Linked DNA regions of Homo sapiens: region 2 is linked to region 1. Evidence: fine-mapped expression QTL. A gene starts in region 1. The other region holds a variant in brackets. All regions are shown on one strand. Distances are from middle to middle. Region 1 holds the start of BORCS6 (BLOC-1 related complex subunit 6). Region 2 has its middle 2.0 kb from the start of TRG-GCC2-6.

Evidence for each region.
Region 2: its variant is fine-mapped to the expression of BORCS6 in whole blood (TOPMed, PIP 0.98).

Annotation. Positions count from the first base shown.
Region 1 is chr17:8,188,505-8,191,296 of GRCh38, reverse strand. It overlaps BORCS6 (BLOC-1 related complex subunit 6), which reads left to right and starts at 1,117. Exons shown (of 1, transcript NM_017622.3): 1 at 1,117-2,792. The coding sequence starts at 1,157. The coding sequence ends at 2,230. LOC124903913 (a long non-coding RNA gene) reads left to right here. Exons shown (of 2, transcript XR_007065604.1): 2 at 1-22. RefSeq lists enhancers at 658-1,303, 1,046-1,325, 1,304-1,950 and silencers at 1,436-1,485, 1,686-1,745, 1,816-1,865.
Region 2 is chr17:8,126,353-8,129,144 of GRCh38, reverse strand. It overlaps a transcript of HES7 not described here. Among named protein-coding and RNA genes, the nearest start is that of TRG-GCC2-6, 2.0 kb to the right of the region's middle. RefSeq lists enhancers at 2,111-2,190, 2,711-2,770, 2,583-2,792 and a silencer at 2,441-2,630. The variant GT/T (reference allele first, on the strand shown) is at 1,145.

The DNA.
Region 1 (2,792 bases):
ATAAAAATACTGATGTCTCCAAGCTTTGGCTATGTGTTGCAATGTACAACCTTTCCAATGTCGCTGCACCATTGCATTTAGAGGAAATCTCCATTCCCTAACAGGAACTACAAGGCCCCCTGCATGACGTGGCCCCTGCTGCCTGTTCAGCTCCTTGGCTCGAAATCCTTCCCCTTATCTTGCTGATTTTGTTTTAGTCCCAATGTCTCCTGCCCCCTCACCTCAGTTTCTTGAATACGTCAAGACTTCTTTGTCTCTGAGAGGTAGCTCAAGTTTTCTTCTCTCTGCCTGGGGGGTGGCTGCGTCTTTTTGGTTCTTTTTAGTTAAAAGTCTCACCAAAGAGGTATTTTCCTGACCCCTTACCTAAACTAGTGCCTGCTCAGTTATATTCTCAATCATAACACTTTATTTCCTGTATAGCACATATCAAAATTTGTGATCATTTCATTTGTTGAATATTTTACCTCGTGGCAAAATCACACGCCATCCTCCAAGGGGCGAGACCCCTCAGTGTGAAAGGGGCAAGAGACACAGAACAAGAGTGACAAACGCATAGGAAAGCCCAGAGGCCGCTGCCTTGACCACAGTGGGTCGCTCTGAGCAGTTCAGTGGTTAGGTCTCTTAACCAAGAAAGATAGAGCAAACCATTCATGCTCATGCTGGACTTCTGGTTTCCTTCTTTTTAGTCAACTAGGTTCAACCCTGATGGTCCAAGAAGGATATGCCATTTTCATCCTAAGAACCTCTCTAGGAACCCCAAGTGGGCTCCCCACTTGGTATTTTTGCTAAGCAATCACTGTTGGGGGGGGTACAATTACAGGCAGAAAGGATCTGAGCCCCACCCCTCGGGACTCAGGAATTTGAGGACCTTGGTCTTTAAGATCTGCCCCATCAGCTTTCAGAAAGGGCGGGGCGACGGGAGCAGCTGTCACCTCCTTCTCTCCACCCTGCCGGCGTTCACGTGTGTTCCGCTGTGCAGTAACAGCTCTTCTTCCGGGACTTCCTGGTCGCCGCGACCAATCAAAATGCTTTTCCTGTCCTTACCATTGTCAGCCGCTGCCAATCGGCTCGCCTCTACCAACGCCCCTTAAAGGCGCAGCCACTGCCTCCGGAGCCGGGGCGAACCAATTCCTCCGTTGCGGCCCCCACCTGCAGTATGGAGTCGTCTCGGGGGCGGCCCGGGCCCGAGACGGACCTTCTGGCTGTAGCGGAACATCAGGCCCTAGTCTTTGGCGGCGGGCCGGGCCGAACGTCCTCTGAGCCGCCCGCAGGCCTCCGGGTGTCCGGGGAGGAAGAGACCGAGAACGTTGGGGGCGCGAACCGCCACCCCAGGACGTCCCCGAAGACGTCAAGCTGCGGCGTCGTCCACCGGCCGGAACGGGAGGCTCTGGAGAACGAGCCCGGCCCTCAAGGGACGCTGTCTGGGGCCGGGAGCCGCAGGGGGGCGCCGGGTGCAGAGCACGAACCTTCCCTGTCCTCCCGGCACAAGAACCCGGCGCCGCCCGAGGGCAAGCCCTCCTCCGGGAGGGACTGCCGTCGAGGGGGACCAGGCGGCGGGATGGATGTTGAGCAGCAGGAGGAGGAAGACAACGACGAGGAGGCGGCCGCGGGCAGCAGAGCCGGCCGCTCGTTCTCCAGCCGTCTTCAGGACAGCCGCAGCCTGGACGGGCTGAGCGAGGCGTGCGGTGGCGCCGGGTCCTCAGGGAGTGCCGAGTCCGGCGCGGGCGGCGGACGCCGCGCCACCATCTCCAGTCCCCTGGAGCTCGAAGGCACAGTGAGCCGCCACGGCGACCTTACCCACTTTGTCGCCAACAACCTGCAACTCAAGATCCGTCTGAGCGGCGCGCCTCCACCCCCGCCTTCTGCCCCTGCGCGGCCCTGCCCAGCGCCTGCACCCACACCCACACCGGCCATTCCCCCAATCGACCCCGAGGTGCTGCGGGATCTGGAGCGGTTGAGTCGGGAGCTGGGAGGCCGGGTGGACCGTCTGCTTCGCGGTCTGGGTGGCGCGGTGCAGGAGCTGACGGCGCTGAGCGTGGGTTGCATCCAGACCTACCGCGATGCTGTGGACTCCTTAGGTGAAGCCGTGGACATGAGCATCAAGGGCATGTACACCCTGCTGGCGCGCTGCGAGGAGCTGGAGCGGGCTCTGCAGCCGGTTCAGGGGCTGGCGCGCCAAGTCCGGGATATCCGACGTACTCTGGAGGTGTTGGAGGCCCTGTGCAAGTGACCAGGAGGACAGGAGAGGCCGGTCCTGGCCAGGGCAGGGCCCAGCAGGACCCTAAGGACTCTTCAGGGAGTCCTGGTGGGAAGTGCCCACTGAGGGGAGGCCTGTGTGTTGGAGGCTCTTCCAGATGCGTTCAGCTGGCCCGTGCCCACTCGCTGGGCCTTAGGCTGGTGTATGTGGGGAAGTTCTAACGGCTCTCCTGGTGGGAAGGGATGTTGCTCTGCTTGTATTCAGTTGGCCATCTGTAGCTACCCTGTTCTTCCCAACTCTCCTCCCTAGCTAGAGCACCAGCCCTGGGAACACGGGGCTTTAGGTCTGCTTGAAGGTGAGGACGTGACTCCCACATGTAATCAGGAGAAAGGGACAGAGGAAGCCCCAGCCCCCACTGTGGCTATCCTGACTCCAGTGGCCACATCTCAGGTGCCAGGGGCTGTGGGAGCTTGTGCCGTCCTTGGCCAAACACCCCGCAGGCAAAGATGCACCCCTGCTGATGGAGAGCCTTCTGCTTCTGCCCTCTGGCCCTCTACCATACCACTTCCCCAGCCAGAACCGGCGTGCAGCTAGG
Region 2 (2,792 bases), 62 kb after region 1:
GCAACAAGAGCAAGATTATAATGGGGCTAAAAAAAAATCCTTATCGCCAGGCTCGGTGATAAGCACTTCGGGAGGCCGAGGCTGGCAGATAACGAGGTCAGGAGATCGAGACCAGCCTGAGCAACATGGTGAAACCCCGTCTCTACTAAAAATACAAAAGTTAGTGGGGTGTGGTGGCACAGGCCTGTAATCCCAGCTACTCGGGAGCCTGAGGCAGGAGAATCGCTTGAACCCGGCAGGCGGAGGTTGCAGTGAGCCGGGATCGCCCCACTGCACTCCAGCCTGGGCAACTGAGTGAGACTCTGCCTCAAAACAAAAAGGAAAAAAAAACCCGAAAAATTCCTATCACCCAAAGATGGCATAGCTATCATAACATTGTAGTGCCATGCGTTACCTTTTAGGTACACAAATGCTTACAATTGTGTACAATTGCCTCCAGCATTCAGTACAGTACCATGCTGTAGCTGTACAGGTTTGCAGCCTAGGAGCACAATAGGCTGTATAGTGTAGCCTAGGTGTGTAGAAGGCTCTACCATCTAGGTTTACATCACTACACTCTGTGATGTCTGAATAATGAAATTGCCTAGCAACGCATTTCTTTGAATATATCCGCACGTTAAGCAAATACATGATCTTACCTAAGACAAAGACCTAGGAGTAACCCCTTCATGTTTTCTCTCCCCACCACCACCTCAAGGCATTGCCTAAAAGACTGCTTCAGCCCCCTGAATGAGCCCTCTGCCTTCATTCTCCAAATAGCAACAAAAGCGATCTTTTAATTTTATCTATCTATCTATCTATCTATCTATCTATCTATCTATCTATCTATCTATCTAGAGTCTCGCTCTGTCGCCCAGGCTGTAGAGCAGTGGCGCGATCTTGGCTCACTGCAGCCTCCCCTCTCAGGCGCGGACCATCACCCCTGGCTAATTTTTTTTTCTTTTTTCTTTTTTATTTCATTGAGACAGAGTCTGGGTCTGTTGGCCAGGCGAGAGTGCAGTGGTGCGATTACGGCTTACTGCAACCTCGCCTCCCGGGTTCAAGCGATTCTCCTGCCTCAGCCTCCCAAGTAGCTGGGATTACAGGCCCACGCCATCACTCCCGGCTAATTTTTGTATTTTTAATAGAGACAGGGTTTCGCCAT[GT/T]TGGCCAGGCTGGTCTCGAACTCCTGGGCTCAAGCGATCCGCCTGACTCAGCCACCCAAAGTGCTGGGATTACAGGCGTGAGCCACAGCGTCCGGTCCAAAGTGATCTTATTAATTATTATTATTATTTTGAGACGGAGTCTCGCTCTGTTACCCAGGCTGGAGTGCAGTGGCGCGATCTCGGCTCACTGCAAACTCCGCCTCCCGGGTTCAAGCGATTCTCCTGCCTCAGCCTCTAGAGTAGCTGGGATTACAGGCGTGTGCCACCACGCCCGGCTAATTTTTGTATTTTTAGTACAGACGGGGTTTCCCATGTTGGCAGGCTGGTCTCGAACTCCTGACCTCAGGTGATCCACCTGCCTCGGCCTCCCAAAGTGCGGGGATTACAGGCGTGAGCCACCGCGCCTGGCCCCAAAGTGATCTTTTAAAACATCAGTCAGAGAATATAACTTTGCTGATGAAAATCCCCCACTGGCTTCCAATTGCCGTTATAATCCAAATTCCTTCAATACTCTCCAAGATCCTGTGGGATGGGCTACGCCTGACTCTCTAATCTGATCTCTGCCACTCTGCAAATCCTCCATCCCGAGTTCGCCGGACCTCTTTCTCCAGCTCCCACCAGCAAATAGCTCTCCTGCCTCAGAGCCTGTACTTGCAGATCCTTTTGCCTGGACTCAAGGCTGCTGACTACGCTGGCATCAAATATCACTTCTTCATAGAGGCTGTCTCTTACCACCCAGAGTAAAGTAGCCCTTCACTTTCAAGTCATCGCCATGACCTTTTTGTTGTTGTTGTTGTTGTTTTCTTCCCACAGCCTTATAACCATCTGAAGCTATCTTATGTTATTTTTTGCTTTCGTAGTTATTGTCTGTCTTTCCCTCTGTAATATAAGCTTCAGGAAAGCCCAGACCCAATGTACTCCTTACAGTACTCGGCACACAGGAGGCACCCCATAAATATGGGCTGACCGAATAAATCCAGCAGCTGCGCACACAGGCATATAGATAGATGCACTTTTTTTTTTTAACAGTTTCCTTCTGGAGGCCACGGTTACTACTTAGCGCTAAGAACAGAGCATTGGCAGTCACAGATACAATCCGAGGACGAGACAGAGACCCAGACCCTGGCGCAAATAAAACAGGTTGAAAGAAACGGGAGGGACAGCTCCAGGGTGAATTCCAGAGACAGAGACCCAGATAGACTAAGGCCGAGACCCAGATTCACTCAGCGAACCTGAGCCCCGAGCCCACAGGCCCCGGCAGCGACCGCGGACAGAGCCAGGAGGAGGCGAGCGGTGGGAGGCGGAGCGCGCCGGAAGGGAGCGGACCGCGGGGAGCCCCGCCGCCCCGCCCAGCCGGCCCGCCCCGCCCCGCTCACAAGTGGTCGCCGCAGGTGGCTGTGCGCCCACCCGCCCGCCCTCGGGCCGACGCGTGCGGGATCAAAGCGGCCGGGAAGGGGCGGGGAGGGGAGGTGGCAGGAACCTGGAAGTGTCAGCGAGCTTCCCAGGGGATGGCAGGAGCGTGGGAGCGCAGAGTCCCGGGAGGCGACAGAGACTCGGAGAGACGACGAGATACCAGAGACCCGAGAGAGCCAGAGGCGGAGATGCAGACGCCAAGACGCGGAGAGACGCGGAATCAGAGATGCGGAG